Linked DNA regions of Homo sapiens. The protein of the gene in region 3 binds, or shares a complex with, the protein of the main gene of each other region. Links are inferred from orthologs where the notes say so. Each region holds a gene or a part of one and is shown on either strand. Other genes may lie near its edges. The genes, in order: GIPC2, TOM1, MYO6 and CLTA.

Region 1 (7,345 bases), on a different chromosome or scaffold from region 3:
ATGGAAAACTTGCATTAATGTTGGTTATATGCATAAACATGGTAAAACTGGGGTTTTACCCATATACCCGGGTTATAAAATGTTATAAACTTTGATCTAACACATGAAAACAACTCGTGTATATTATCTTGGAAACTGACCTTGCAAGTCAGTGCACTGAAAATGTTGAACGTGGCTACCAAGCTATTGCTGAGACTCTGGAAAACTTGGGTAACAATATAGCTTCATGGGAGGAAAAAAAAAAGATGGGCACAATGGCTCCGTGTCTGTGTTATTCAAGAGACTGAGGTAGGAGGATCACTTGAGAGTAGGAGTTTCAAACCACACTGAGCAACACAGAAAAACCACATCTCTAAAAAAAAGTTTTTTTAATTAGCCAGATGTGGTGGCACATGCCTGTAGTCCCAGCTACTTGGGAGGGTGAAGCAGGAGGATTGCTTGAGCCTAGGAGTTTGAAGCTATAGTGAGCTATAATCGCACCACTGCAGTCCAGCCTGGGCAACAGAGTGAGACCCCATCTCATTAAAAAAAAAAGAAAAGAAAAACAGAAAACAAAAAAAAAGAATACACTGAATTCAAATCCAGGCTCTGCCACTTGCTATGTGTAATTCTGGAAAAATTCTGAACCTCAAAGTCTGTTTCCTCTCTGTGAAGTGGGGATATTAATAATAATACTTACTTCTTAGGGATTAAGTAGATTGAATAAAATCATGTACCTTGAGCTCAGAATAATGTCATATATAATGATGAGAAGTGTTAATGCAAAATACACATGCTCCTCTACTTACCAAGGTGTTATGTCCCAATAAATCCATTGTGAGTCAAAAATATCATAAGTCAAAAATGCATTTAATACCCCAATAAACCCATAAAGTGGAAAAATCTTAAGTCCAGGAAGTTACATCCTAATAAATCCATGGCGAAGTCAAAAATCTTAAGTCTAACTATCATAAACCCAGGACCATCTGTAACTAAAACTGAAGTCCCTGGTTACAGCAAAGACATTTAAAGTTGTCAGTTAAGTATGCTAACAAGCTCACTAGCTTAGGAATCAGAAGATCCAAGTTTAAATTACAGTCAAGTTTTTTTTTGCTAGGTATGTGACCTTGGCTAAGGGCCAATCACTTTGTACTTCAGTCCTTCATTTAACTGTTAGGTATTAATCATATTAGTTACCATGTATTAAGCCCTAACCATAAACTATGCAATCTGATACGTTTACATACGGACTCCACTCTTCACAATACTCTTCAAGACAAATATTCTAATCTCTATTTTACAGATGGCGAAAACTGAGAGAAGTTAAACTCATTCAAGTCCACACAGCTAGTAAAGGGTAGAACCTGGCTCCATGTCCAAGTTATCGTATTTAACCTGCCACCTGCCTCCCCTAGAGATCAAAGGAAAGTGTCCTGTGAAAGTGTTTTTTGAAAAAAAAAAAATCCTATATAAATGTGAAGTATTATTAGTATCCTATATCAATACAAATAATTCACAGATGGGTTTGCGATTTGCCCCTTAGTGCCTGGGAACTTCGAAAGAACAAAGGGTTACACTTTAAGCTCTCTTTCGTCTCCTCTTGGAATTTTGCCTTGACCTCAATTTCCCTTGAACAGACCTGATAAACAACTAATTAAAGAACTCCAGGTGCCGCTGTAGGCCTCAAAGACAGCTCTCTGCACTCCTCTGAGTCCAGGGCAACAAAATTATATGCTTTTCCTAGAAATGTGGACAAAATATTTTGTTGAGCTAACTTTTCACACCTACCTTTGCAGTTCACTTGGGTTAGCACAAATAAAGTGGTCACATAAACGTTCACATAAACTAGTGCTTTAGGTCATGCCTGTGTCAAACTTAGTTCCAGGCCCCCATGAAATCTAATTAAAGCAAATTTCAGTCCCTTTTTAAGGATACGATGTAAAAGAGCTGATCTTCCTCATGAAAATTTTGTTAACTAGTCCCACGTGATTAAGTATGAATCTCTAGGTTATCCACTCTTGGAATAACAGCCCAGCTTTTTAAACTTCTTGGAAATACCACCAAAGGGTTTCTGGTGCTGATGTTAGAAATGACAGATTGGGGGAAAGTGGGCCTCCGTTTGGTATTACCTGGAAGGCTCTTCAATGTTTTCCCCCCCACTTAATCTGGGTATCACCTGCAAGGCACTTCTATTTTTTTTTTCCCCCGTTAATCTAGGGAGATGACCTGCGTGACTCTCACGCCTGCGGAGGAAACAGGAGAGTAAAGTCCAGATGAAGTGGAGGGTATTAATCTGCCCCGCCAGATCTCGAGTCTGGGAAGGTGCTCACGCCTTGAACGGCCGGCGGAATCCGGGACATCTGGAGCAAACACATTTGCAAGCGGAAGAAAGGTTGCCTCCCTCAACCCGCTTCCCAAAGGCCAGATCTCGGAGCAAGGGGGACTGTGACTTTCTGCGGTCCTGCCAAGTTAAATTTTCCCTTCCAGGGAAGGCACACTCACTTTCCCCCGGGACGCCCCCGGCGGACTCAACACGGCATCGGATTTCGCGCTCCGGGAAACGCCGCTCAACCCTCCTGGGCCCACAGAAATACGCGCGGCGCGGCGCGGCGCGGCGGAGAGGCGGGAGAGCCTGAGCACCTGGCGCCTTACCTCCGACGGCGAGATTTCAAACGCGCCCGCGATCTGGGCGTAGAGCTCCTGGATGCTGGAGAAGCCCTCCACTCGGCCCGTGGCACTACCGTGCGCCAGCTGCGCGTGGAAGACCAGCCTGCGTGCGGGAGCCCGGGACGCTGAGAGGCTCCCGCCGCCCGCGCCCGTCGGCTCGCCCTCCACCAGCCCGGCGGTCTCCTTGGACTTGGCCTTCTTCTTCCCCCGCAGCTTCAGGGGCATCTTGCAGGGCCGAGAGCGCGGGCCCACCTGCGCTGCCGTCCGCCGCCTCCTCCCCCCGGCGCCTCGGACTTTGCGCCCCGGGCCCCGCGCAGGTAAAAGCAGCCTCCAATGGCAGCCGCGCTTCCGCCTGGCTGCGTCGGGTCAGGGCCCCGACCTCCACCCCTGGACCGGAGCAGCCGCCCGCCCGCCCAGCCTCCCCCGGGATGGATCTGGAGAGAAAGAAAGTTACGTAGTCCCTCATCCTATCACCAGGTTTATCCCTACTCCTTGTAAAAAATGGCTCTATTTACGTGAACGCCTGAGGATGCCGACGCTACAGAACAATACGCCTTAGAAGGCAAACACGCTGGCCCTTCTCTGCTTTTCATAAATCTGTAGTAGGCACCCACGCATGATTTGGCCACAGGCCTTCGGGTCCGTACGTCTGGACTTTCGGGGATAGGGATTTAAGTAGAAGTCAACCTTCGTCTGCATTTTCTGCGTCTTACGCTCTGCAGGGCAGAATTGGAAGAGAAAGTCACATAACCTTGAGCTTGGTGCTACGTTGTATTCATAAACCCCCTCAGCCGGGTCCTTGGCACCTCTGAGTTTCCCTTTTGCCTATTTCCTGGGCTGCTTCCTCTCCCAACATTCAGCACGCCTCCAAAGCCATTTGCCCCAGCTCTGCCCTTCTTAGTCTCTACAGAGGACCTTGCCTCATATAGTACAAAGAAAATTGAGGCCATTCGGTGTGAAGTGTGAGTTCCCTCAATTCCCTACCTCGCGTTTATTGCATTGTTTTCAAGTCCAGTCCCCTCCAACTACGCTTTTTACAACAAAGCAAAACAGTCTTGAATTATTAGCTACGAAATTTCCTCACTTCTCTGCTCTTAGAAGCACTGTGATCAGACTTTGCCCCCACACTACTGAAATTTCACTTACTATGCAATTTCAGTGGAGTGAAATCACTATCATATCTTAATTACCAAATACAAGTAATTCTTTTAGGTTTTTATCTTACTTGGTCTGCGTTGCCCATTTCATTCTTCTTAAATTTTGTCCTCTTTTGGCTTCCTTACCTCTCCTCTCCCCGTCCCCACCCTGCTCCTTGCTAACTGCTAGTCTCCAGGAGTTGCATTCACCGACAGTTTTTCCTCGACAAACTTCCCTTCTTACTTAGCTTTGCATGTTCTTCCTGTATGGTCACATCAACATTCTCGGTTTCACAGACGTTGTTGTCTACCAAATGTCTCCAACTCCAGCTTATTCTACCAGAAAGGGAATGTACTGTAGGAAACCCAAATTGAGACTGAACAAAACTGACCTCATCATTTCTCCTGCATCTATCTTTTCTTTTTTTTACTCCTGATTTCAGTTAATAGGATCACCAAGCACTCCCAGACCAGACATTGTGGAGTCGTCGTATCAGGATTTTTCCTCTTCCCTCACCTCTCACATCAATTCAGTCCCGAAAATCCATATTTCTCAACTTAAGGTTAGCAGATGTACTGGGGGAGGAGAGTCTTAAGAATTCTTTAGGAGGCCGGCGCGGTGGCTCACGCCTGTAATCCCAGCACTTTGGGAGGTGGAGGCGGGCGGATCACCTGAGGTCAGGAGTTCGAGATTAGCCTGGCCAACATGGTGAAACCCCGTCTCTACTGAAAATACAAAAATTACCCGGGCGTGGTGGCGCATGCCGGTAGTTCCAGCTACTCGGGAGGCTGAGGCAGGAGAATCGCTTGAACCCGGGAGGCGGAGGTTGCAGTGAGCCAAGATTGTGCCACTGCACTCCAGCCTGGGCAACAGAGCGAGATGAAAAAAAAAAAAAAACTTTAGGATAACTTTAACATTTTTGTTTTATGTTTCTGTGACTTAGAAAAGTAATACAGGGACACCTGCACTCAGCCAGTGCTGCTGCTGTTGCTTCCCAGGAGAGCCAGGGCAACTTTCCACTTGGCCCTCATCCAGCTTCAAGTTTCTTCATCAAATCAGATAACAACACTCGAGCTTGTAGCCTTGTCCGGGAGACAGCAACGCAAGGAGCCAAAATGGTTTCTTTGTTGGAATGCTTTAATTCTCCATATGGCACAAAATATTTTCCTGAATATGCAGCGAAAATTCCTGGTAAATCCACACAGAAGCTTTCTGAAGTAGCAAAGGAATACAACCTCACTAGAGGTTCCATCCCTGAAGAGGATGCTGGGAAATTAGATAACACCTATGCTGTGTTTGCACCTCATGGAACTTTACTAGTAAAGCACAGAAAGGTCCATCTGCTTAACACTGGTGTTCCTGGAAAAATGACGTTTCAAGAATCCACAATGTTGAGTCCAGGCAACAGTTTCTCCACATTTGATACTCCTTACTGCAGAATGAGTCGGGGCATCTGCTATGACACTGGTTTGCAGAGCTTGCACAAATCTACACACGGAAAGGCTGCCAGCTGTTGGTTTATCCAGGGGCTTTCAGTTTGACCACTGGACCAGCCCACTGGGAATTGCTTCAGGCTCTTGATAATCAGGTGTATGTGGCCACATTCTCCTGCCCAAGATGACAAAGCCTCCTATGTTGCCTGGGGACACAGCACTGTAGTGAACCTTTGCTGCTAGGGCTCTCAAGGAAGAAACAATCATGTATTCAGACATAGACCTGAAGAAGCTGGCTGAAATCCATCAGCAGATCCCCATTTTTAAACAGAAGCAATCAGACCTCTGTGCAGTGGAGATGAAAAAGCTCTAAAGTTTATGTTTCCAACGTGTCGCAAAACAAGAAGATACGATTCTGCAACATAATCAACTCCCTATTCTTTAATGAAGATCCTTTTTTTAAATTTCACCCTTTTCCTTCCCAAGGAGCTCTCTATTAAGATGATAAATCCTCAGCAAGCTGATATTTTCCACACCACAATAAGTAGTTAAAAAGGAGCCTGGAGCCGAAGAGCTGGCTCTGAAGTTCCTTCCGTATTTAAGTTGCCTCAGAGCAGTTTGTGAAAGTAACCGATCTTGGTATCCTGGTGATTGATTCACCTAATACAAATATATTTGTGTCATGAACCTCTTATCCCACTTGCTGGAGTTGGAATCCATTATCTGGAAAACTTGATCTGATGCCATTCTTTTCCTAGCAGTACCTTAAAGTTCCATTTTTTGTCCACAAGTAGCTATAGGACGTAAGGTGATAGATCTTTGGTGTTTGCTAGGGGAGGTTGCAGCCCCTTCCTTCCTAGCAGCCTTTGGGCTCTTCAAATTTAAGAAGAAGCTCATCATTCAACCCCAGACCCTCTTGGTCTTTGGGGGAAAGACTGGGTCAACAATGACCCCCATGGGAGAATGGCAGTGGTGGCATTTGGTGAAGGCAACAGTATGAATCTGCAAAAGATTTGATAGGGTCGAGTGTCTGGAAGTCCAAAGTCCCTTTTTTTTTTTTTTTTTTTAATTTTTCCCCTAGTAAGACTTTCTCGCTCCATAGATAAGCAATCACTGTACCAAGTGATTCTTAGACTTTTTGGTCTCAGAATTCTTTTACACAGTTAAAAATTAAGGACTGAAGCCTGGCGTGGTGGCTTACACCTGTAATCCCAGCACTTTGAGAGGCAGAGGCAGGCCAGGACCTGGCCAACATAGCGAAACCCTGTCTCTACTAAAAATACAAAAATTAGCCTTGCGTGGTGGCACACGCTTGTAGTCCCAGCTACTCTGGAGGATGAGGCATGAGAATCGCTTGAACACGGGAGGTGGAGGTTGCAGTGAGCCGAGATCTCACCACTGCATTCCAGCCTAGGCAACGGAGCGAGACTGTCTCAAAAAAATAAAAAATAAAATAAAATTTTCAAATATAGACTAAGGACTGAGGCCCAGCACGGTGGCTCACGCCTGTAATCCCAGCACTTTGGGAGACCAAGGCGGGAGGATAGCCTGAGTCCAGGAGTTCGAGAGCAGCCTGGGCAAAGTGGTGAAACCCTGTCTCTACAAAAGAATACCAAAAAAAAAAAAAAAAAAAATCAGCTAGGTGTGGTGGTGCATGCCTGTAATCCCAGCTATTCAGGAGGCTGAGGTGGGAGGATCGCCTGAGCTTGGGAGGCAGAGGTTGCAGTGAGCTGAGATCATGCCACTGCACTCCAGCCTGGGTGATAGAGTGAGACACACACACGCACACACACACAAAATTAAGGACTGTCAGGCGTGGTAACAGGCATCTGTAGTCCTAGCTACCTGAGAGGCTGAGGCCAGAGGATCCCCTTGAGTCCAGAACCTTGAGTTCAACCTGAGACCCCATGTCAAAAATATATATGTATTATAGGACTGCAATGAGTCTTTGTTTATTTATGTTAACAGCTAGTGATGGGCTGGTAATCGTTTAACCAGCTATTCATGAAAAAGCCTCGATTTTGCTAATTTTCATTGTGTAAATACTTCACCATGGCTGAGTTCCAGCTATCTACATGACACCTCTAAACAGAGTTGGGAATGTTGTACACAATCAGCTCTCAGGAGCT
Region 2 (8,049 bases), on a different chromosome or scaffold from region 3:
TTCTTCCCTTCTCCCCACCAGTGTTGTCACAGGGCTATGTTGCTTAAAGGTAGTCTGGCTGCTGAATCCCTTTCTCAGCTCAGAGCAGTTTTAAGATTTAATTGGGAATACAGAGAAACAGGATTGTTTGAGAACCAAAATCAAGAGGAACAGAAATCTTAACTTGATTTCATGTGTTAGAACATTGTACCATGCCTCTTCTGTATCTGTGGAAGTTTCCTGTTTGACACAGGGTATCTAGGAGGGGCGGGGAAGACATGGATAGTATAGGAAGACATTAATCCTAGCATTGTCATTTATATACATTAATGAAATCCTGATGAGGACCTGCTTTTTGTTTGTTTTCCTTTGAAACCCAGCCCTATTGTATTTGTATTTAAAATTTGTACACATTTGTATAATAATCTGTACCTTGTGGTATTTGGTACTATTAGAGGAAAAACTTTGGATTCAGACCTTCTTGCAGTTTTTATATCATTGTTTTATTTTGTTTTTTAAATAAATTCTAGTGGTTTGATCCAAATCCCATTACAGTTGTATAAAGAAATAAAATTTTGTACTTATATTATTAAAAATCACATTTTTAATATTTGTAGTCCAGTCTCAGCTGTCTTTTCCCTAATCATGATCATCATAGTTGCTATGAAATTATAAAACCTGTTTTTCACTCTATTCTACCATAATTTTCTTAAGAAAAAAATCAACCCACAATGGAGATTAAATTTCTAATCTTAGCCATTTTCTTAATATACTCCTTACTCTGCTTCTATTAACTTTTACATTGTAGAGGTTCTCATTTTCTCTTTTGCAAATTGCAAATTTAGTGAATCTGATAATTCCACCTCCATTTATTGGCAAATGAAACTATGTGCATTATGGTGTTGGCCTAAATCAAGAAAATGTTGATTAATCTTATATAAGGGTTGCATCTGAATCATGTGCTAAATGATATGTTTCAGTACTGTCCTGTTAGCATTACAGTAATGCTGTTGATAAGTTACTTAATCTTTATAGGCTTCCAAAGTCCCATCTATAGAATAGTGTTAAAGTCACTTCCCTGTCTGTAGACCTGCAGCCAGCCAGCCTGACATGAATGTTTAATAACATTATGAACACTGAATATATGGAGATATGACCTTTCAAGGTAAAAACTTCAGTGCAAACACAAGGTGTTAAAAGTCATAAATAGTAAAATAATATGATTAATTACAAGGCTAATGTCTTATGGAAAGGCAGCAAGGAAGAGACTACCGTATCACTGAGTGACTATTAGAGTGATTTGCATACTTTGTCTCACTCATCCTCCGCCCAAAGCCTTAAGAATATTATCTCCCTTTATAGATGCGAAAAAGTACTTTTCCTAAGTTTATACTGCTAGTAAATGGCAAAGGCAGATTAAGAACAGTGAAACAGCTGACCCCAAACCCTAGGCTCTTTTCTACCCCAAGCTACTTTCAGATTTAAATCATGTCTATAATTCATCAGAATGCTTTCCATTATCTCAAGTCCTGAGCGAATGTGATTGTGGGAATGCTGTCTCAGATCTTTGCATTGTTCGGGTATCTAGCTGGCTTTCACTCTTGTCATACTATTGTCTTTAAATTTTGAAGGCAAGGTATCTTGATTTTTGTCTGTAAGCACTTAAAGGATTTAATAGATTACATTTATGCAGACTGTCAATCTTAAGAAATTTGAACATTTTAACCCTCAGTAAGGCATGATATTAATTTTACTAAAACACTTAAAAAGTAAATTGAAACACTTTTTACTAAATCAGTTTGCTCCTTATTAGCACACTTTTTAAAGACAGTTTTAATCAGTTTTGTACTAACTTTAATGTTTGCCATTTACATCCCTATCTACTATGTTGATAAAATCCATATACTGGCCAGGTGCAGTGGCTCGTGTCTGTAATCCCAGCACTTTGGGAGACTAAGTCAGGAGGATCATTTGTGGCCAGGTGTTTGAGACCAGCCTGGAGAATATAGCAAAACCCCATCTCTACAAAAACTAAAAGATATTAGCCAGGTATGGTGGCATGCATCTGCAGTCCCACCTACTCAAGAGGCTGAAGTGGGAAGACACTTGAGCCCAGGAGATCAGGGCTACGGTGAGCTACAGTTGTACCACTGTACGCCAGCCTGGGTGACAGAGACTCTGTCTTTAAAAATAAATAAATAAATAAATCCATATACTTCCATTTCTGTTTCAATAGCTATATAGTAATCAGTTTGCATGGAGTTGTTTTTCTTTTTTTTTTTGAGACGGAGTCTCGCTCTGTCTCCCAGGCTGGAGTGCAGTGGTGCAATCTCTGCTCACTGCAAGCTCCGCCTACCAGGTTCACGCCATTCTCCTGCCTCAGCCTCCCGAGTAGCTGGGACTACAGGCGCCCACCACGGCGCCCACCACCACGCCCAGCTAATTTTTTCTATTTTTTTAGTAGAGATGGGGTTTCACCGTGTTAGCCAGGATGGTCTTGATCTCCTGACTTCGTGATCTGCCTGCCTGGGTCTCCCAAAGTGCTGTGATTACAGGTGTGAGCCACCGTGCCCAGCCTGCATGGAGTTTATGATTCCACTTCCTGTTTGGGGGCATATGAGTTGTCTCTGTTTTTGTTTTTTTTTGTTTTTTTTTTTTTTTTTTTTTACCATGAATAAAGTTTACAAGAACTTGTTAAAAGCTTAAAGGAAGGGCCAGAGATGGTGGCTCATGCCTGTAACCCAGGGCTTTGGGAGGCTGAGGTGGGAGGATCACTTGAGCTCAGAAGTTCAAGGACCAGCCTGGGCAACATAGTGAGACTTTGCCTCTAAAAATAAATAAATAAAGGTTAATGGAAGAATCCAAAAGAAGTTCATGCTAAACATAACTCCATATGACCAAGCAATAAGGTTAAGTGAAGAAAGACATGGAAAGTGCCTTGACCTGAAGGTCATCTTAAATGGCCTTCTCCCCGCTTATACTCCAAATACCATTACTGAAACGTAGATCTATTTAAGCTTTCATGTGCTAGTTACTGGGTTAGACAATAGTGGGGAGCAAAACAGAAATAGTAGCCCAGCCCCCAGGGACATCCAGACTCGTGGGGGCAAAGGCATTTGTGAACAGGTCTCATGAGTGTTGTGGAAACACTTCAAAGCAGTTTTTATATTGTACAGTAAAGACATCGGACCCCATGGCTGCTCAAACAAGTGAATCTACAGAGGTGATTAAGTTCTAATTTAGGTTTGTTTTTTTTTTTAAGACACAGCCTTACTCTGTCACCCAGGCTGGAGTGCAGTGGCACGATCTCAGCTCACTGCAATCTCTGCCCCCCTGGGTCCAAGCAATTCTCATGCCTCAGCCTCCCAAGTAGCTGGGACTACAGGCGTGTACCACCACACCTGGCTAATTTTTGTATTTTTAGTAGAGACGGCATTTTACCATGTTGGCTAGGCTTGTTTTGAATGCCTGACCTCAGGTGATCCACCTGCCTCAGCCTCCCAAAATGTTGGGATTACAGGCGTGAGCCACCACACCTTGCTTAATTTAGGTTTTCTGTCATCCAAAATTTGTGCAGTCAATTTACTAGCCTTTCAGATTTAAAAACCACAAACATCACAATAAGTACTTAAGCACCCACAGTAGCCAGACTACTAAGGCCATGGTTATTGTATTTTTGGAGTACATGCCAGAAGAAAAGGTCATAACCCATAGATAGGTATCTAGTGTGTAGGTGTCAGCAGACACACCACACACAGCCAGGAAGGCTGAAGAGATTAGAATCACAACGCTGGGAAAGGCCTTTGAGATTCTTAGCTTGGGGTCCACGGTTGTACTTCAGGGACCCCAGAAACTCCCTGAGGTTATAAGCAAAATTGTATCGCTGCCTTTTTTCTTCAGAAAGGCTCATGGCTTTTGTCAAATTCTCAAAGGAGACTGTGACCTAAATAAAATATTTTTTAAAAATGGTTACGAGTCCTTGATCTAATTCCAGTATCTAGAGAAAATGGGAGCTATGTTTGGCTCACACAGTAAATTTATGGCAGAGACGGGTATTAAAGCCCCACTCGTGACTACATCTGTGCTTTTTGCCATCCTGGGCGCTAGAGGGAATTGCGCTGCAATTCATTAAATTGCCTCTCAGTCTCAACAGATGACAAACCCCTTGCCCTTGCCTCTGATTTAAGGTAAGATAATTTGGGCTGCGAGCAGGGTGCATCTTGGAGCGGGGAGACCTTGACATCAAACAGGAAGAGTCTTACCGGGACAAGGAGACAACAGCCCAGAGAGGCTGTCACCCAGGGTAGGTGTGCAGTCACAGTGAGGTCCCAAGGACTAAGGGCTATGACCCTAAGAGTCTCGGCTTCTGTGTAACTCACCCAAGTCACTTCCCTGGTCTACGACCCAGTTTCCCAAATGTGTAAAGGGTCCTTTAGACCTCGCCCTAAAAGGTCAGGGGCGTGGCTTAAAGAGGACCGCGCTTCCCGGGCCCCGACCCCAGACCCTACATCGTGTGTGACGCCCGCCGCCGCCGAGCAAGCCGCAGTGAGGTCATCGCCCTCCGCCTCGGGGGCGGGACCCTGGCGTCTCAGGGCGGGGCTTGTGGTCGAGCTTCGCGGTGCCACCGCCCCGCCCACGCCTCCTCGCCGGCCTCCGAGTGCGTCACGTGACGGGTCGGTGGCGCTGGCGGTTGCTGTCAGCTGATTCCCGGGGTTGGTGGCAGCGGCGGTAGCAGCAATGGACTTTCTCCTGGGGAACCCGTTCAGCTCTCCAGTGGGACAGCGCATCGGTGAGTCCCTGGAGCCCCCCACAGCTCCGCCCCGGTGCTCCGCACCCAGCTTCGGTCCCCTGGGAAGCCTCCGGGTGCCTAGTCACGGAGGCAGGGAGGGCAAGGAGGCTGGCGTGTAGCTCTCCGACCTGGCTCCGCCCAGCTTTCCTCCCACTCTTGATTGACAAGAACTTGGGCCATTAGGAAGCCTTGGCTTGTGATAGATGTATATGACAGCCAGTAGGTAAGGAGAGAGGGTGGGTCCGGATGCCCACGGCGCAGCCAATGTGCGTCTGCTGGGGTCCCCAATCGAGGGAGAAAGTTTTCGTGGTTAAAGGGACTGCGTGGTTGGCAGTGGCTGGGCCACTCTGCTGGGTCCCGCCGCCTGGGCTCTGGCCAGCTCCTTCCTGGCTCACCGGGCCCTCCGGACACAGACACCTGAGAAGGGCTAGAAGTCCCTTCTCCCAGGACCGCGAAGCCCCGGGCTTGGCGTCTTGGGGCCAACTGGCCAGAGGGGCCCAGCGCCGGACAGCCCGCGGCCAGGCCTCACAGACCCGGGTCTCAGGACGTGTCCGCCTGGGCTCTTTTCTCGACCCAACCTCAAATGGACCCGCACAGACTCTCAGAACCTGAGCAGACAGTGGTCGGACAAACCCTCCTGGTCAGCCCATCTCGGTGCTCCGTAGGTGGGGCAGCCGGGAACTCGGGCCAAGCCAAGCCCAGGGCACCTGGCGCCTGTCTGCTGGTCCGTGGTTCTCTGCACCCTGGTGACAGGATACTCACAGTTCTGTGACGCAGCCTCCCTGGGCCGAGGTTTCCTCACCTGTAGTTGGCGGGCAATAATGGTCCCCACCTCCGTGGGCTTGTTGTGAAGATTAAATTCCTTAATAAATGTGAAATACTTAGAACAATGCCTGGTACATGGCCAGTGCCATATAAAAAAAAACAGTTGTAATATTTATTATCACTGGGCTGGGCACGGTGGCTCCCGCCTGTAATCCCAGCACTTTGGGAGGCCAAGGCGGGCAGATCGCTTGAGCCCAGGAGTTCGAGACCAGCCTGGGCAACATGGCGAGACCCCGTCTCTACAAAAAAAAAAAAAAAAAAAAATACAGAAATTAGCCGGGCGTGGTGGTGCGTGCCTGTGCACCCAGCCACTCGGTAGGCAGAGCTGGGAGGATTTATTGGATCTGGGAGGTCAGGGCTGCAGTGAGCCCTGATGGCGCCACTGTACTCCAGCCTGGACGACGCAGGGAGAGCCCATCTCTTGAAACACATACACATACACACACACACACGCACACATATATATAAAAATATACACATACAAACATACATATACATACACATACATATATATTATATGTATTTACACACACACGTTGTTCCTGAGATCACCAAGTGAAGGTTAGGAATCCCTGGAAATCGCTTGGCAGTAGATCTCATAGGTGCTCATTCTTGGGCACCAACACCATGAGAACCGACATGCCTTCACCCAAACAGCCACACTTCTCCGGAGGATGGTTTGGGTGTTCCGCATTCTTGCATGAAGAAACCATCGCATTACCGTGAAATTACTCTTCATCTTTTTTGATGACGACTTTTCGTCTTAAGTCCAGACTGGGAAAACTTTAAGATGAGACATATTTTCCATTCTTAGTGTCTTGCGAAACCTCACGAAAGCTTGTCGACCCGGCTCTGTGTTGTAATCGCCACCGTGGCTGTCGGTGGCTCTTCCGAGGTTTTGTAATCAATGCTCTCCAAGGGGGAGGTGGCAGTCCAGGATTTACACACCAGGAAGCTCCTGAACCAGGGAGAGGAACTGCCCTCTCAAAGGACCCCTGCCCTCCCCGGACACACACCCACCCCACAGTGAGTCATGGTTTTTTGGAGCTGAAAAGAGAAGGCAGCTCTCCTCTCATCTATATTTCTCTGACTACAGAAACCACTGCTTTTATCACATGCCAAGTTTAAGACTTACTACTTAAAAATAAACAAGTAAATAAAAGACCTGGCTTCAAAGTCAGCCACATACTCTTAAGGCTTTCTGGAAAAGCTCACCTGGGTTCTGGATTTCAGCTAATCAAAGCAAACTTCTCTTCTTACCTTGAAGCGTTGCCTTTCTTGGGCAAGAAATACTTCTGTGCAAAGAGAATGCTACTAAATCATAATACCTTAAAGCACAAATGGAATTTTGCAGGTAAAAGAGCCTTACCTTGGGGATCTTCTAACCCAGTGGTTCTCATCAGAATTCCTAGGAGGGCTTGTTAAATAATGTCGGGGCCCCAACCCCAGAGTTTCTGACTCTCCAGGTCTGCGGTGGGACTCTAGAATGTGAATTTCTTTTTTTTTCTTTTTCTTTTTCTTTTTCTTTTTTTTTTTTTTTTTTTTTTGAGACTGCGTTTCGCTCTTGTTGCCCAGGCTGGGGTGCAATGGCACCATCTTGGCTCACTGCAACTTCCGCCTCCCGGGTTCAAGCGATTCTCCTGCCTCAGCCTCCCAAGGTAGCCGGGATTACAGGCACGCTCCGCCACACCCGACTAATTTTGTATTTTTAATAGAGATGGGGTTTCTCCATGTTGGCCAGGCTGGTCTCAAACCTGAACAGGTGACCCACCCACCTCAGCCTCCCAAAGTACTGGGATTACAGGCATGACCACCGTGTCCGGCCTAGAATGTGAATTTCTGTTGAGTTCCCGGGTAATGCTAATGCTGTTCCAGCCCATCCCCTTCATTTTACACTGGCGGAGACTAAGGTCCAGAGAGGGGAAAGTGGAGGCTGTGACTCATCCAAGACCCCAGTAAATTGACAGCAAAACTGAGTCATTGAAATTTAAACCAAAGCTGAAGAGGCTCCAAAAGTAGAATTAAGAGTTTGAGTTAATCCCCTCAGTATTCCATATTCTTTTAGATAAAGAGGCGGAGGAAGTACTGCTCCCTGGCTGTGATTACTGATGACACAGTATAGCTGCTTATAATTCTGTAAACCAGGCCCCTCCTTGCTGCAGGAGTACCATCTCTTCTCAAGCCTGCCGACTCCCATGCCCTTGTTGATAGTAGAGCTGTAGAGCCATATGGAATTGACATCCCTCAGATGGTGATTCTAATGATGCTAATCAGGAATGAGTGTCAGTCACTGGAATCACAAAGTTCTCATCCACCTCCCCTCCCAACACACACACACACACACCCCTTTGTGCTTGCTGGTCCCTCTGCCTGGGTTGCTTGCTCCTGTGCCCCCACTGAGGAGCTCCAGATCACCCTTCAAAGTACAGGGCATCATCACCTCCTCCCTGAGGCTT
Region 3 (7,261 bases):
AGGCAAATCACTTGAGCTCAGGAGTTTGAGACCAGCCTGGCCAACATGGTGAAACCCCATCTCTAATAATAATAAAAAATTGGCCAGGTGTGGTGGCGGGCACCTGTAATCTCAGCTACTCAGGAGGCTGAGGCAGGAGAATCACTTGAACCCAGGAGACGGAGGTTGCAGTGACCCAAGATCGTGCCACTGCACAGCCTGGATGACAGGGCAAGACTCCATCTCAGAGAAAAAAAAAAAAAAGAATAAATAAACTCTGAGATTTATTTAAGTTATAACACTTCCCAATATTTTTAGATATTTTAATATATAAAAATGAAACTACACAGAGGTTAGTAAACTCTTCTTAAAACTGGTATTTTACATGTCAAAAATGGAGTCTCAACTATCAACAGAAAGTTAAAATGGGTTTTTTTCAATGTTTGGATGTTTGCATTTGTTCAAGCCTCACATGGTCAAAGTCTTTAAAACTTTCTAAAGAAAGCTACATTTTGGAACCCAGATACAGCCCAGTTGTCTAAACAATGGGCTACATGATACACCACAGACTCCAGGCAAAGTCACAACAGGATGAGAACAGAGCCTTCAGCCTCTCTCAGATTTCCTGGCCACTGTTATTTTAAAACTTGACCACGTAAACATAAACAGGGAAAAATCCATTTCAGATAATCCCTACTGGTTATGATTTACGATCTTTTGTTTTTAATGCAATATTTAATTGCATTAATTTACATTAAATATTGTAATTGTTCATAACATTTTTCTTGCTCATGTTTCTAGGCACTAACCAAGAATATATATGTATATCATATATAGTTTTATATATTATACAGTTTTTAATCATGATCTTTCCTTAAATGTCATTCATACTTCTGTTACATTTACAATGGTTTCTGAAAACAAAAATGTAACTTACAAAGATGAGAGAATGATAAACAGCATGTCACACAAAAAATACAAAAATAATGGGCAAATGTACATAAGACTAAAATGACTTCTGTTTACCAAAGTGGATGCAATTCCTGCGTAACGTAAAATACTCAAAATGAGCTGTATATATAAAAGTCTGTGAGCTATTTTGAACGGCAGCATGGTTTCAAGCTCTGGCTATAGCCCACTTTGTAACATTTGTGGCGGTTTCTACAATTAAGGAAAAAAGGCACAAAGGTAATTTTTTCACTAAACATTCTCCAGTTTGAAAACCACAACCCAAGACATCTAGGAAGTTCAGTTAATTTGTACAGAAATGCTGTTTTGCCGCCAACCTTTGTACCATGACCACTACCAGTCCAAGTTCAAGATTCACGTTTTATGGTGTGAAGATAAGTTTCAGCTAAATCTTAAGAATGTTAATTTTCAGGCCAGGCGCGGGGGCTCAAGCCTGTAATCCTAGCACTTTGGGAGGCCGAGGCGAGTGGATCACCTGAGGTCAGGAGTTCGAGACCAGCCTGGCCAACATGGCGAATCCCCGTCTCTGCTAAAAATACAAAAATTAGCTGGGCAGTGGCGCGCCCTTACTGTAGTCCCAGCCACTCGGGCGGCTGAGGGAGGTCAATCGTTCGAACCTGGGAGGTGGAGGTTGCAGTGAGCTGACAGAGCGAGGCTCTGTCTCAAAAAAAAAAAAGTTAATTTTTAAAACTCTCAAGTTCTGACTTTATTTAGATAGACTGCATCTATACCACCAGAGCATTAAAAAAAAAAAAAAAATGAGGCTTATTTAGCCCGTACAGTTAAGTCTATTAAGTTAGGGCAGTGCTCCTCATTTCTCACTAATACTTGTAAATCAGGATTTAAGCATCCCTCCACCACATCACTTTATGCCAGGTAAGATGTAAAGAATATTTGGCCAGGCGCAGTGGCTCACGCCTGTAATCCCAGCACTTTGGGAGACCGAGGCGGATGGATCAAGAGGTCAGGATTTCAAGACCTGCCTGGCCAAGATGGTGAAACCCCGTCTCTACTAAAAATACAAAAAAATTAGCCAGGCGTGGTGGTGGGCGCTTGTAATCCCAGCTACTCGGGAGGCTGTGGCAGAGAATTGCTTGAACCCGCGAGGGGGAGGGTGCAGTGAGAGGAAATCGCACCACCGCACTCCAGCCTGGGCGACAGACCAAGGCTCCGTCTCAAAAAAAAAAAAAAAAGGTAATGAATTTTTTAAACTGTATGGAAATACTTTTAAACACGGATGTTCTAGCAATAACCCCATCAAATTGTGTCCTACTTAAAATTAAAATCCCAGAGTTTAAGCATTTTAATCGTTTTAGGGAGTTTTTGGAAATTAACAAAAAAAGTTCTTGTTCAGTAGCATATCCGTAAATTAACATACTCAAGGTACTGGACCACCTGGAGACTAAGAATAAGGCTTTAGAAAGTCTCGATCTGGTCTCCTACATGATTAGACTATTAATGGTATCATTTGATCTTCACATCTCAGAGCAAACTGCGCTCCCCCTGCACTGAATTTTAAGCGTGTTTACAAAAGAGAAAATAAAACTATCACGGAGTGTCCAAGTCCGAGTTAGGCACCTGAGTGCTCTGCTTCTACCTGGGAGCCAGGGAAGAAACACAAAGGGACCTTGGTGATGAGAACCCATGAAAGGAGACTGATTGTCTTTCGGTGGAAACGAGAACCACCGCCGGCCCCACTGCTGCCCAGGGCCCACCCATCCATCACCTGCTTCTCCCACCCGCGTCCTCGGGCAGTGAACAGAAGCGTCGGCCCCGGAGCTGCTCGAGGAGGCCCGGGAGCAAGGCCGGGCCAGGGAACGCGAGACCCCGGCGCCGACGCCCCGCAGTGGGTCTCTGGGACACTCACCGGTGCGGGAGCGAAGGCAGGTGCGCGGCGGCGGGGCTACCTGTACGGGTGAAGCTGGAGGGCGCGGTGAGAAGTGATGAGGGCCAGTGAAGAGGGCGACGACGCGGACGGGCACCAGGACAGGGCGGCGACAGCGGCCGGGCTGAGGCTGGCTTCCTGCTCGGACAGATCCCGAGTCGGTCTCCGCCCGCCGGCCGGCGCCCCGCCGAGTCCCCGGCACTGCGGCGTGCACGTCACGGCTACGGAGCGCCCGAAGGGGCGGGGGCGCCGGGGCCGCGGCAGGCCGTCGGGCGCGCGCTCCGGGAGGGAGGGCGCGCTCCGGGAGAGGGCGCGCGACCCCCGGGGTCGCCCCGCCCGCGGCGCAGAGCCTCTGGGGCGAGGGTAGGCGCCCTGCAGCGCAGAGAGGGGCTGCCCCTGGACAAGCCGGGAGTTCTTGTTCTTCCCATGGCGAAACGGCCTCTTTTGCCGCGGTAGTTGTTTCCAGTCCCGGCAAAGCAGGTCCTGTCCGGCTGGATACTGTGACTGTGCAGTCTACCAACAGCGAGAATCAGTTCAAGCAGGGAGAAAGTTGTTCGGAGAAGGGGCGAGGAGTCCGGGGCTCCGCGCGGGGGACCCAGGAACCAGGTGTCCGCGCTTGGGCGGCAGCGAGGCTGCGTGGCGGTTGCGGCAAGAACCACTGCTCACTCGGCCCCGGATCGGGCCGGCTTGGACTGGGCTGCCCTGCATAGGGGGGAACCTTCCCGCACAACTAAGTTGCCATTCGGTCTTTGGAGGAGGGGGCTTGGGATGGGAATTTCGCACCCCTTTGCCTCTTCCCGCTCCTACCCTCGCCGACGCATTTACTTTATTTAGAGCCCCTACCTTCTCAGTCGTTTAAATGTTACTGTTTTTATTAGTGACATACCTGTGAGTCACCTTTTAAAATATGAAGTACCTATGCAAATTTGAATTATATGGTAAAAACACATCACCTTTACAATGAAAACAGCTTCTTTTAAGGCAACGAAATAACAATTGACTATAATGCTAAATGTATCCGCTGAAAAAAGCCTACTTGCACATGAGAATTACACGTTTTTCTGCAACATTTATATGTAGCGACTTGGAAACTTCTGGAAATCTAGAAGATTCTGACGAGGAGACAAATTTCTGATACTTAAAGACTCCATGGTTCTGTGGGTGGAGAAATAAAAACTCTAAGTTCTGATAAGATGTTTTAGAATTCAACTAAAACAATAAAATATTAAGAGTAAAATAGGGAAGTAAGAAAGAGGAAGAGAAACAAAGAAAGGAAATAATTTACAGCAATCTCAGAAATTTAATTCCAAATTGCCAGAAGGTAAGTCTTAAGTATATAAAACTAAATTTCAAAACAAACTGAAAAAAAGAGGGAGAAGATGAAGATGGCTGTCTCAGTTCACACTGCTCTGACTCAATTTTGGATTTAATACTAAACTTCATTTGGCAAACCAATAGAAGTCAATACATTTTTTTAATTTTCTTAATTTTTTTGTTGTTGGTAAACACAGGGGCTTGCTATGTTGCCCAGGCTGGTCTTGAACTCTTGGCCTCAAGCAATCCCTGCCCGCCCCCCTCCCTTGGCCTCCCAAAGTGCTGGGATTACAAGTGTGAGTCACCACACCTAGATAAATCAATACATTTTAAAGATTTTTTTGTAGCTAATGACTTTCGTGATTGTTTTCTCTCCTTTGCCCCACACTTCCAATCCATTACTGAGTGCTTTTGCTTCTGGCTCTATAATATCTCTCTAATGTATCAAATTCCTCTTTATACCCACTACCACTATCTTGTTTCAGGCCACTATCATTTCAAATCTTGCATACTGCCTAAGTCACCTAACCAGTTTCCCAGGCCGCAGTTTTATCCCCTTCTAATCCAGTCTTTACAACGTCATCAGTTTGTCTTTTATGTACTCCACTATTTAAATTTCTGTAATGGCACTCTCTGACTCTTGATATAAAGTCCAAACCACTTAAAATGTCTTGTAAGATCCTTCTTGATTTAGCCACCAGTCACAAACTGGCTGTTTTTGTTTGCCTAACATAATGGGGATTTCCTTTTTTCCTCTTTTTTTTTTTTTTTTTTTTTTTTGAGAAAGAGTCTCCCTCTGTCTCCCAGGGTGGAGTGCACTGGTGTGATCTCGGCTCGCTGCAACCTCTGCTTCCTGGGTTCAAGCGATTCTCCTGCCTCAGCGTCCCAAGTAACTGGGACTATAGGTGTGCACTACCACGCCTGGCTGATTTTTATATTTTTAGTAGAGATTAGTTTTTGCCATGTTGGCCCGGCTGGTCTCGAACTCCTGACCTAAAGTGATCTGCCTGCCTCGGCCTCCCAAAGTGCTGGGATTACAGACGTGAGCCACCACGCCCAGCCCTTTTCTTTTTGAGACAGAGTCTTGCTCTATTGCCCAGGCTGGGGTGCAGTGGTGCAATCATAGTTCACTATAACCTCAACCTCCTAGGCTCAATGAATATTCCCACCTCAGCCTCCTGAGTAGCTAGGACTGTAGGCACATGCCACCATGCCAGGCAGTTTTTTTTTTTTTTTTTTTTATAGAGACAGGGGTCTTCTATATTGCCCAGGCTGATTATGAACTCCTGGACCCAAGCGATCCTCCTGCCTTGGCCTCCCAAAGCACTGGGATTACAGGTGTGAGCCACTGTGCCTGACCATGTTTTTTTCTTCTAATTAAATTTGAATTTGTTTTCATTGGTTATGAGGTCCCCAATTCATTGCGGTCCAAAACTCACAAAGCTGTCTGTTTTAAACCAGACTTCCTCGCACAATGTTACCTGCCTGTCTTTGGAATGACTTGCATCCAGTGTCCTAGCCCTGCTTACCTCTCCAATCTCATTTCTACCCACTGCCTTTCTCTATTTCTTGTCCTTTATATTCAGGTCATTCTGCAGTACTTTTGTGTCCCAGAACAGACGGCTATGCTATTTATTACATTGGAACATTGCCAAGCTAAATCCAATTAATCCTTCAGAACAAAGCCTATTTGTTCCCTCCAAGACGTTTTCCCTAAACCCCCTTGATGCAAATCCTAGGTGCTTTTTGGTGCTCTTTCCCATTTCTCACTTAACACCCATTGCAGATATCTCTTCAAACACACATTTCACTATTGCTACTTAAGTTTACTTATAAGTATCCTCCAACTGGACTGTAAAACTCCTTGAGGTCATAGTGAGGGACTTAATCTTTGTGTCCCTAATGCCAGGCAGAGTGGCTTTCACATGGTAGTCATTCATTAAGCAGTGCCTACCATTAGTATTACTATTGAATAAATGGGACAGATGGATGAACAACTGGCAAGAGAGTTGACACTTGTAAGAAACTGCATGCACTGGCAGGGCACAGTGGCTTATGCCTGTAATCCCAGCACTTTGGGATGCCAAGGTGGGCTGATCGCTTGAGTCCAGAGTTTGAGCATGGTGAAACCCCATCGCTACAAAAAATACAGAAAATTGGCTGGGCTTGTATTCCTAGCTACTCAGGAGGCTGAGGTGGGAGGATTCTTTGAGCCTGGGTTGGGGGGTTGAGGCTGCAGGGAACCATGATCGCACCACTGCACTCCAGCCTGGGTGACAGAGAGAGACCCTGTCTCAAAAAAGAAAAATTGCTTGTGCTGTAGTTAAGCATGGTGGATACAACTCATCTTATTTGTTGCAAAAACTCAACAAGTTATTCCGTATCTCTACAGTCATGCATCACATAACCATAGGGATACATTCCGAGAAATTCATCATTGGATGAGTTTGTCTTTGTGTGAACATCGTAGAATGTACTTACACAAACCTAGATAGTATAACTTACTCTCTGGGCTATATGGTATAGCCTGTTGCTCCTGGACTACAAACATGTACAGCTTATTACTGTAGTGAATACTGTAGAAAACTGTAACAATGGGAAGTATTTGTGTATCTAAACAGAAAAAATACAGTAAAAATATGGTATTGTAATCTATGGGACCACTGTATATGCCATGTTATTGATCAAGTGTCACTATTTGGCACATGACTAAGTTTTTCAGCTTTGCTGTCACTCATTGAATATTTGTAAGACCCTTCCCTGGATCTTCTTGTGCCATCCCAGAAATTTCTAACTGAGATCCACGGATCCTTTATCATAGATAGGAACTCCACAAATCCCCCTGAAATCATATGCAAAATTTTGTGGTTTCATTTCTCCTTTTTTGTGGGAATAGATAACACAGGCGTGTGAGGGTCTCTACACCTTCCCTGGCTGACATCCGCTTTGACAGCTTCAACTGCATCTATGTCACCAACTCCTTTTTTTTATATAGGCAAGCTTTATTGTATATGAACTTGATTTCACATGCAAAGTTAGAATTACAATTTCACCTAAAATTAACTCATTAAAATATATAAACATCACAGTATAGAAAGGTTATCCAAAACTCCA
Region 4 (7,648 bases), on a different chromosome or scaffold from region 3:
CCTCCACCACTGCTACCAATAAAATTACTTCTCCAGAAAGCTTCCCTTTAATTCACCCATGTCTCTTTCTTCTCCTACAAGAAATAACTTGTCACCGGGTGCGGTGGTTCACACCTGTAATTCCAGCACTTTGGGAGGCCAAGGCGGGTGGCTCACCTGAGGTCAGGAGTTTCAGACCAGTCTGGCCAACATGGTGAAACCCCGTCTCTACTAAAAATACAAAAAGTTAGCTGGGCACGGTGGTGGGCGCCTGTAATCCCAGCTACTCGGGAGGCTGAGGCAGGATAACTGCTTGAACCCAGGAGGCGGAGGTTGCAGTGAACCGAGATCGCACCACTGCACTCCAGCCTGGGTGACAGAGCGACTGTCTCAAAAACAACAAAACACCATAATAGTGCCTTACTGCTGTACTCTCTCTGTGGCTTGTCTCTCCTGTTCTCTTCCCCGACTCAGCCCTCATGATTGAGAGCTTTTCAACAGCTCCACTTGTGCTGCCTCCTTCATGACCACCTGTTCTTCCTCAATATCCCCCACAGCTGGTTACCTCAATATCACTTCACCCAGCTGGTTTCTTCCTGCCTCTAAACCTACGTCTCTTTTCTGGATCTCTTAACAACCAAAGGAGTCATCCAAGGCTTAGCCCTAACCCCTCTGGTTTTTGCCTGTGCCCATCCTCCATAGACGCTTTCCGCAAGGCTGGGGCCAGTTTATTTTCCTCTCATCAATCTGTCATAGCTGACTGCCTATATATCTCTGTATAATACATCAGAAAGAGAGCTCCCGCCTAAAACCTCAATTTACTCAGTACACTTCAAAGCCTAAAGGCCTTGTAACTCCTTTCTCCCACTAATAGTAGCTGGAATTCACTAGATACTTAATATAACTGTAAGCACTTTATAGACACTCTTTAATGTAATCCTAAAGATGCCACATAGCATTATAAATTATATTATGCAACTTTTACAAAGGAGAAAACTGAGGCCGGGCAGTGGTGGTAGTTATATACATTGTCTGAGATCACAAAGCTAAACTCACACTCAAGCAGTTTAGGATAGCATAGAATCTTAACCACTAGAGCATATCTTTAAAAAAAAAAAAAAAGAAGGAAAAAGAAAACTAAGAGAGAAAAAGTGTCCAATCAGTTCTCTAAACTCCAAAGGAAATGCTGACCACTGCATATTACCAACTTCAATTACACTGTCAGGAATCTGGCTTTAAGTCACCAAATGCTTAGTTCACTAAGAAAGTCCCTCCTAGGAACTAAGTCAGCAACCATTTCTTTCCTTCCCTTTGCCGAAGGCTTGATGCACAAAGGACCGAGCATCCAACTCTATTCTCTCCCTTTTACCTTCCCTAACTGCCCGTCACCAAGATCTGTCAGTTCTACATAGGACCCTTGGATCTGACATTTTTGCCCATTTCTTTGTCAAACGTGAGCATCTACTACATGTCAGACACACTGCTAGGCAGTGGAGATAAAACAGTAAGGGTAACACTGTCCTTGAATCAGGACAATCTTCCAACTACAGATCTTGGGTTCTGCTTCTCCCAAATCTGTTCCACCTGGGACAGCCACAGCTGCCTGTCTGTTATCGCACTACACCCCTGCTAAAACAACTAAACACTGCAACAGAATGTGGTATATTCTAAGAGTGGGTAGACTTGGGGCTCAGCTATTAACTCGTGCTTTTTTAAGCAAGTCGTTTCTCTCTAGGATTGCTTCTCTTCTATTAAATGAGGAAGGTTAAACTAAGGGTCTAAGAAGTCAATTTTAAAATTCTCAGACAAATGTTAGAGACCACCCAATGAAAATATCCCCTAATCACTTAAGGCCAACTTCATCTCACAATCACAGCCTAGTTTAGTCCAACCTACCCGCTATAAAGTTGCATATTCGGGCATATTACATGTTCCCACTAAGTTCTTATTGGGGGACTGATTTGTTTAGGAAGCAACATGGTGCAGTCAAAAACTCAAGAGGCTGCAAACTAGCAGCACACCCACCAACCCATCCATCAAAAGGTTCCGCCTGGCTGGCACAGTAACTTGAGACTGCTGGATCTGAATGCCTTTACACAGAGCACTACTATAGTGCAGCAAAGCCTCAGTCTCCAACACTTCTACTGTCTCATGTCAAGCCAGCTTCTCTCGTATATGTTACCTACCTGGCTCCTTAAGGTTTGAATTTAGGGTAGACACTACTCCTATATGCCCCAGTAGTGCCCTATTCTCCCTTAGTTGGAATTTTTTAAGTGAATGAAAAGCCGTATTTCATTTCTTCTAGCTAAATTTCCTACTTCTTTGTATTATTAAGTAGGTCTTTTCCACTCATGATCCTAAGCATCACACACAGGTTAAGGCATCCAAAGGTCAAACTGCCATCCTACCTGCCCCATTTTTACTTGAGTTTGGCTGAGAACATTCTCTATTCACCTCTTCATCCCTCCCTGATTGGTTTAGGCTAATCTTGGGTTCTGCTTAGGCAATATTGCCTACCAAAGCTGTTCCCAGAGGAAGAGCTCCAGAAGTCCTAGCTGTAAATCAATCGCTCAACGATAGCAAACTCCTACCGCGCTTGGCAGTTCTTTCTCCAGACCTAGATCATCTTTCGAGTTCCCTACTCCCTCCTTCCTCCTCGTAATCCAACACTCTGTACACCTTAAGTGCTTAAATGCTGAACTGCATTGCTACTTTTGTTTGTATCTCTCAAAAACGATATTTCCATTCTTATTTTTTTCCGCCCTCCTTTTCTAATAACGAGTTCTGTGCTCGGCTCAGACTTATAAGCTTATAAGTCTGGAAAAACTGCGCCAATGCGGTTGCTTCAGAGACCGGACTAAAGGCACAGCAAATGCTTAATGAAAAGTTGCTGAATTGAACGGGCTTCTTCCGGCTCCGGAGCCTGCCACCCTACACTTGCTTTCTCGCTCCGCCCGCGCCCAGAAGCACTCAAACATGCTGAGAACCGAACAGGCTTCTCGAGCCTAGGTTTCTGAAAGACCGGGCCAGGGTCTCGTTTCCTGTTTGCACTGCTCCCTAACCTCCTAATTCAGCAAGGAGCACGAGTCACACAGAAGCTCTCGGACCCACTGTGGACCGAGTTTCCAGACAAGTCCTCTCGCCCCAAACGCGCCCGCACTCTCACCCGGACCCCCCGGCGGCTCGCCGTGCGGCTGGGGCCCGGGGGCGCCGCCGTCCAGGATGGCGAAGGCCTCGTCGTTCTCGATGCCCGCAATCTCGCTCTCTTGCTGCGCCAAGAAGGCCGCAGCCGGGTCTTCTTCGCCGGCGCCGGCCACTCCGTTCCCCAGCGCGGGACCGCCAGGGGCGCCGGCAGGGGCGCCGAACGGATCCAGCTCAGCCATGGCGGGCAACTGAACGGCACGGACACCAACGGTGAGACAAAAACCAACCGACCCACCGACACCACGCCCGGCAGCCACCGCTGTGGTGCCGACTGGGAGAGGAGGACAAGCGCCAGGAGGGAGACGGGTAAAGCGGAAGCCCTACCCGTGTATCCGGTCGGTCTAGGCGGTGTTGCAGAGCCGAAAAGGGAACAACCAATCAGAGGACAACAATGGTTCAGGAGCTACCCAATCAGCAAGTGGAGGGGCGGTCCCCCTAAAACAACTCGTGACTGGGGTAGGGCGGGAGGTGAGGGAGGTGAGCTGCGCGGGCCCCGGGAGGCGGAAGTGCTGCCTGATAGGGAGCGTCCTACCCACCCCGTCTGCTGGAGCTGGACTGACCAGGGACGGCCACCCCTGAGGGGACTCTAGTGCTGCACTGGGAGGTGAGGTGAAGTTAGGGCAGCGACGATTGGCCGATTACTGAAGAGGCATGCCACTTAGGCTTTCTGAACCTCAGTTTCCTCATTCGTAAAATAGAAACAAGAATCCTGCTCTTGCGCCCCCTCCCGGGATTATTAGAAGATTGAATCCTAAAAAAAAAGAAGAAGAAGATTGAATCCTTTTATGGATTTGAGGGTCCCTGGCTTTATAAATTTAAAATATTTAATTCTTTCAGCCAGCCTGGATTATTTGCTCCCTTAGAGCCCATAGATTTACTGTAATTGATTCAGTCCACTCCGATTTTTCTCGCCCATAAGTATTTTTATTTAAAAATGAATATATCTTATCTTCTTCAACGAAGCACTTTTGCAGCCATTACGTCTTTTCGGAGCTAGACAGAAGTTACTAAACCTGGAAAATTCCTTAAGGATCACTTGCTTCAAAGGGAGACACGGTGGCCCTGCTGTTCAAGGAGCGTCAGTGACCCAGAGAGTCAGTGACCAAGAGGAAACGCCTGTCTCCTGGGGACTTCCAAGATACTAGCTACAGTCTCTTATATTTACACCTTTCCTCCCTAAGGACAGCAGGAAAAAGAAAGTTCCGTGTTTCTTTTTAAATCAGGGAGATGTTAATAGCTACATGGCTCATTTTGTCTACACCACAGAAATAACAGTGGTTCCAGTTAATCATGCTCATGTTGAGGGGGAGTGCTTATGCAGGGGCCACCAGAAGACCCCTCTCCTTCACTACCACCACCACCACCCTAAGAAATGAAAAGCCAAAAAAAGAAACCAAAAAACCAGAGGTCAACAAGAAGCTTCCAGAGGTAGTCAGCAGGGGACAAGAAAGTGTTTTTATAAAAAACGCACATATCTTTGATGACAAAAAAAAAGGGATAGCTATGAAGGAAAAATGAAGCAAATAAAAATTATTTAAAGCATATATTTACTTAAAGCATAATTTTAAAGTCATTTAAAGTATGAACCATAGGAAAGTGTTGAAGAAAAACATTTAAGAAAGTTAAAATGTTAGGGTCTGCAATTGATTCTGTTTCCCCTTGTCTGTTGTTTTATGCTCATCCCTAACATACATTGGCAACAGTGCATGAAGTATTTTCACATTAGCCTTGACATAGTCTCATGAGGAAAAGAGGGGCAGGGACTACTATGAGAGAGCCCAAGGAAGACAACTTTTAGTTGCTCACAACAGTAGTAGCTCCGGAACAGACAGCATTCTTTTTGGGGAAATGCATGACTTTGGGAGAAACTCTCCTGTGATTCCCTTGCTAGAGGAGGCATTACATATTATGCAAAAGCAACAAACAAGTATACACTCAAAATTGGAGGAATAGCTGATGTGTTTACGGATGATTTCACAGAGGTGGCTTGGAGCTCAGTTTTGAAATATGGGGAACGTTTAGAAGAGTCAATAATGAGGGTCTAATGTTAGTGTCATGTAAAAGTTCAGAGGTGGGAAAATGTTTGGCATGTTTTGGGGACAGTGAGTAAATTAGTTGGAGTCTGAAGAGCTCAGCAAGATGAATAATTGAAGGAAAATCTGGGGACAGATTCTGGAGCCCTGAAAGCATTCCATGTTAAGGAATCTTAATGGCAATAAGGAACCATAGAAGGTTTCAGATAAAGGAATGTTTTGATCAACTGCTGCTTAGGAGGTTAATCGGGTCCCTGGTTGCAGGATGGATGGGGCAGAGGCTGTGGGCAGAGATGTCAGGAGTGACATGATGAAGGTCTGGGCAGGGCAGAGGTATGGAGCTGAGTGGGGAGCGTTGATGGGAAAGCGGGTCCCAGTAGGGAAGTGACTAACTTGGTGACCGACCAGAGGTACGGGCTGGGAAAAAGGCAAGGGGAAAGGATGGGGTCATAAATCATGAATCTGTGAAATTGCCAGAACCATTAGTTTGAGGGCTTTGGGGGAGCCCAGGTGATTGCTGGGAGACAGAAGATTTAGAAGATGTCCAGGAACTAGAAGTGTGTAGCCTGCCATGATCCCTGGTGGACTGAACAAAGGTGGGTGGGCAATGGGAATAAAAGACAAGACAAAAGAGTATATTTGGAAGAAGGGGTCAGGGGGCACTTTGCCTCTAGTGGACAAGGGCCCTGAGTTTTACACATCCCTCCGTATTTCGTAGGCAAAAGAGAGCGAGAAAGGGGGGGTGATTGTCGGTAATTGTCAGTTAGAGGTTTGGTTCACAGCAGGCTTGTGAGACTGCATCTTTTGAACAATAGGTGCTAGATTTCTTAGATAACTTCAAGGAGCCCTGCACCAAGGAGTGATGTCCATCAGCAAACCTTTTGGTGGCAGGTGCAGTGTGTTTGCTCACATCCTACATTCATGATAAACAGTTTGCTGTTTGATCATATAGCCTCCAGTGGAATGCTGAGTTGGTCACGATCCCTTTGGCCTTTTCGGCTCCCAACAGAAGTGTGTATAGGAGAGAGTGGGACCACAGATGGAGACTAGAGAGGGAAGGACTGAGGCCTAAATCTTGGAGGATGGCTATATGTGAAGGAGGTAGAGGGGTGGGTCAGAGAGATTGGAGAGGGTTCAGTTAGAGCTGGGTGATGGAAGTCAAGCAGAGTTTGCAGAAGGAAGGAGTGACTAGCAGAAAGGTGAAGAATGAGAGCTGAGCAGATGCTCTTGGCCATCAAGTTCCCTGGTCACCTTGGTGAGAGAGATGTCAGTGGATGCCAGGAGTGGAAATCAGTTTGCACTAGGTTGAGGGATGGAAGCATAGTGGACATCTGTTGGTTCTGCCTGCCTACATCCAATTCCCTTTGTTCTGATACCAGCACTCCAATATTCCTTTGGGGAACCATTCTTCCTCATTTTCAGTTTTGTGGTTTGGATTGAGTGGACCACCCCCATGTGACCCAGGCCTGGCCAATTAGAACATCCCATTCCCTGCCCAAATGATTGGGAATGGACAAGTGAGTCAAACCAGGCTCATGAGGCTCAATTCCAGGACTGTTACTAGAATCTTAGGGAAAGAGCTAACTCTTTCTGCTGGAGCTGACAAGCAGGCAAAGTGTAAGCTTAGAGCTTCTTGTGGTCATCTTGTCATCAAGAGGAGAGATTGAGAGTGAGAATGAGGTCAACATGGAGGAATGCAGAGAGTGAGAAAGACAACTTCCTGTTGGTATCATTGAGGACCTGGATTCAGCCATGCTTGAAGTGAAAGATCTACTTCTGTACTTTTTGGCTCTGTGAACAAATAAATTCTATTTTTTTTCCCCTTAAGACAATTTTGAGTTGTGTTTCTGTCATAAAGAATTCTGCCTAATCCAGGCCAGGCACAGTGGCTCACGCCTATAATCCCAGCACTTTGGGAGGCCAAGATGGGTGGACCATTTGAGGTCAGGAGTTCGAGACCAGCTTGGACAACATTGTGAGACCCCGTCTCCACTAAAAATACAAAAATTAGCCAGGCATGGTAGTGTGCACCTGTAATTCCAGCTACTCAGGAGGCTGAGGTAGGAGAATCGCTTGAACCCAGGAGGCGGAGGTTGCAGTGAGCCGAGATCACGCTGCTGCACTCCAGCCTGGGCAACAGTGTGAGACTCTGTCTCAAAAAAAAAAAAAAAAAAAAAAGAATTTTGCCTAATATAGAATGAGAAGTGAGGGCAAATTTAAATGTAGAAGACATTAGAAAACTTTGCAGCCGGGCACCGTGGCTCACACCTGTAATCCCAACACTTTGGGAGGCCGAGGAGGGTGGATCATCTGAGGTCAGGGGTTCGAGACCAGCCTGACCAACATAAAGAAACCCCGTCTCTACTAAAAATACAAAATTAGCTGGGTGTGGTGGCACATGCCTGTAATCCCAGCTAACTCGGGAGGCTGAG

Evidence for each region.
Region 1: the proteins of MYO6 (region 3) and GIPC2 are in contact, whole or in part, in a crystal structure (PDB 5V6H), measured with the Mus musculus proteins. The link is inferred for Homo sapiens from one-to-one orthologs. Residues at the interface, in NP_001034635.2 of Mus musculus: Ser1055, Lys1056, Trp1057, Lys1058, Tyr1059, Arg1084, Arg1085, Leu1086, Val1088, Tyr1089, Trp1092, Lys1093, Asn1096; in NP_058563.1 of Mus musculus: Glu255, Leu256, Tyr257, Met258, Gly259, Ile260, Asp262, Asp264, Leu265, Thr268, Thr289, Leu290, Asp292, Phe293, Ala294, Pro296.
Region 2: the proteins of MYO6 (region 3) and TOM1 are in contact, whole or in part, in a crystal structure (PDB 6J56), measured with the Homo sapiens proteins. Residues at the interface, in NP_001355794.1 of Homo sapiens: Ile1182, Phe1184, Trp1202, Gln1214, Glu1216, His1218, Asp1220, Lys1221, Pro1222, Ile1224, Leu1226, Glu1234, Met1235, Cys1236, Leu1238, Glu1242, Thr1243, Gly1244, Leu1245, Arg1247; in NP_005479.1 of Homo sapiens: Ser440, Glu441, Phe443, Phe446, Leu447, Arg450, Ala451, Ala453, Ala454, Asp455, Leu457, Pro458, Asn459, Leu460, Ser461.
Region 4: the proteins of MYO6 (region 3) and CLTA are in contact, whole or in part, in an NMR structure (PDB 6E5N), measured with the Homo sapiens proteins. Residues at the interface, in NP_001355794.1 of Homo sapiens: Met1053, Thr1054, Pro1055, Met1058, Ala1059, Met1062, Ser1087, Trp1089, Lys1090, Tyr1091, Glu1113, Arg1117, Leu1118, Val1120, Tyr1121, Trp1124, Asn1128; in NP_009027.1 of Homo sapiens: Glu47, Asn48, Glu50, Ala51, Phe52, Ile54, Leu55, Asp56, Gly57, Gly58, Ala59, Pro60, Gly61.

The regions. Positions count from the first base shown.
Region 1 is NC_000001.11:78,041,621-78,048,965, reverse strand, and holds the start of GIPC2 (PDZ domain-containing protein GIPC2), read right to left. Parts: upstream 3,001-7,345; 5' UTR 2,872-3,000; coding exon 2,632-2,871; coding exon of another isoform or gene 2,482-2,631; intron 1-2,481.
Region 2 is NC_000022.11:35,295,213-35,303,261, forward strand, and holds the start of TOM1 (target of Myb1 membrane trafficking protein), read left to right. Parts: upstream 1-4,681; 5' UTR 4,682-4,716; coding exon 4,717-4,768; intron 4,769-8,049.
Region 3 is NC_000006.12:75,744,978-75,752,238, reverse strand, and holds the start of MYO6 (unconventional myosin-VI), read right to left. Parts: upstream 3,001-7,261; 5' UTR 2,816-3,000; intron 1-2,815. UniProt on the Homo sapiens protein: Myosins are actin-based motor molecules with ATPase activity. Unconventional myosins serve in intracellular movements. Myosin 6 is a reverse-direction motor protein that moves towards the minus-end of actin filaments.
Region 4 is NC_000009.12:36,186,771-36,194,418, reverse strand, and holds the start of CLTA (clathrin light chain A), read right to left. Parts: upstream 3,499-7,648; 5' UTR 3,363-3,498; coding exon 3,146-3,362; intron 1-3,145. UniProt on the Homo sapiens protein: Clathrin is the major protein of the polyhedral coat of coated pits and vesicles.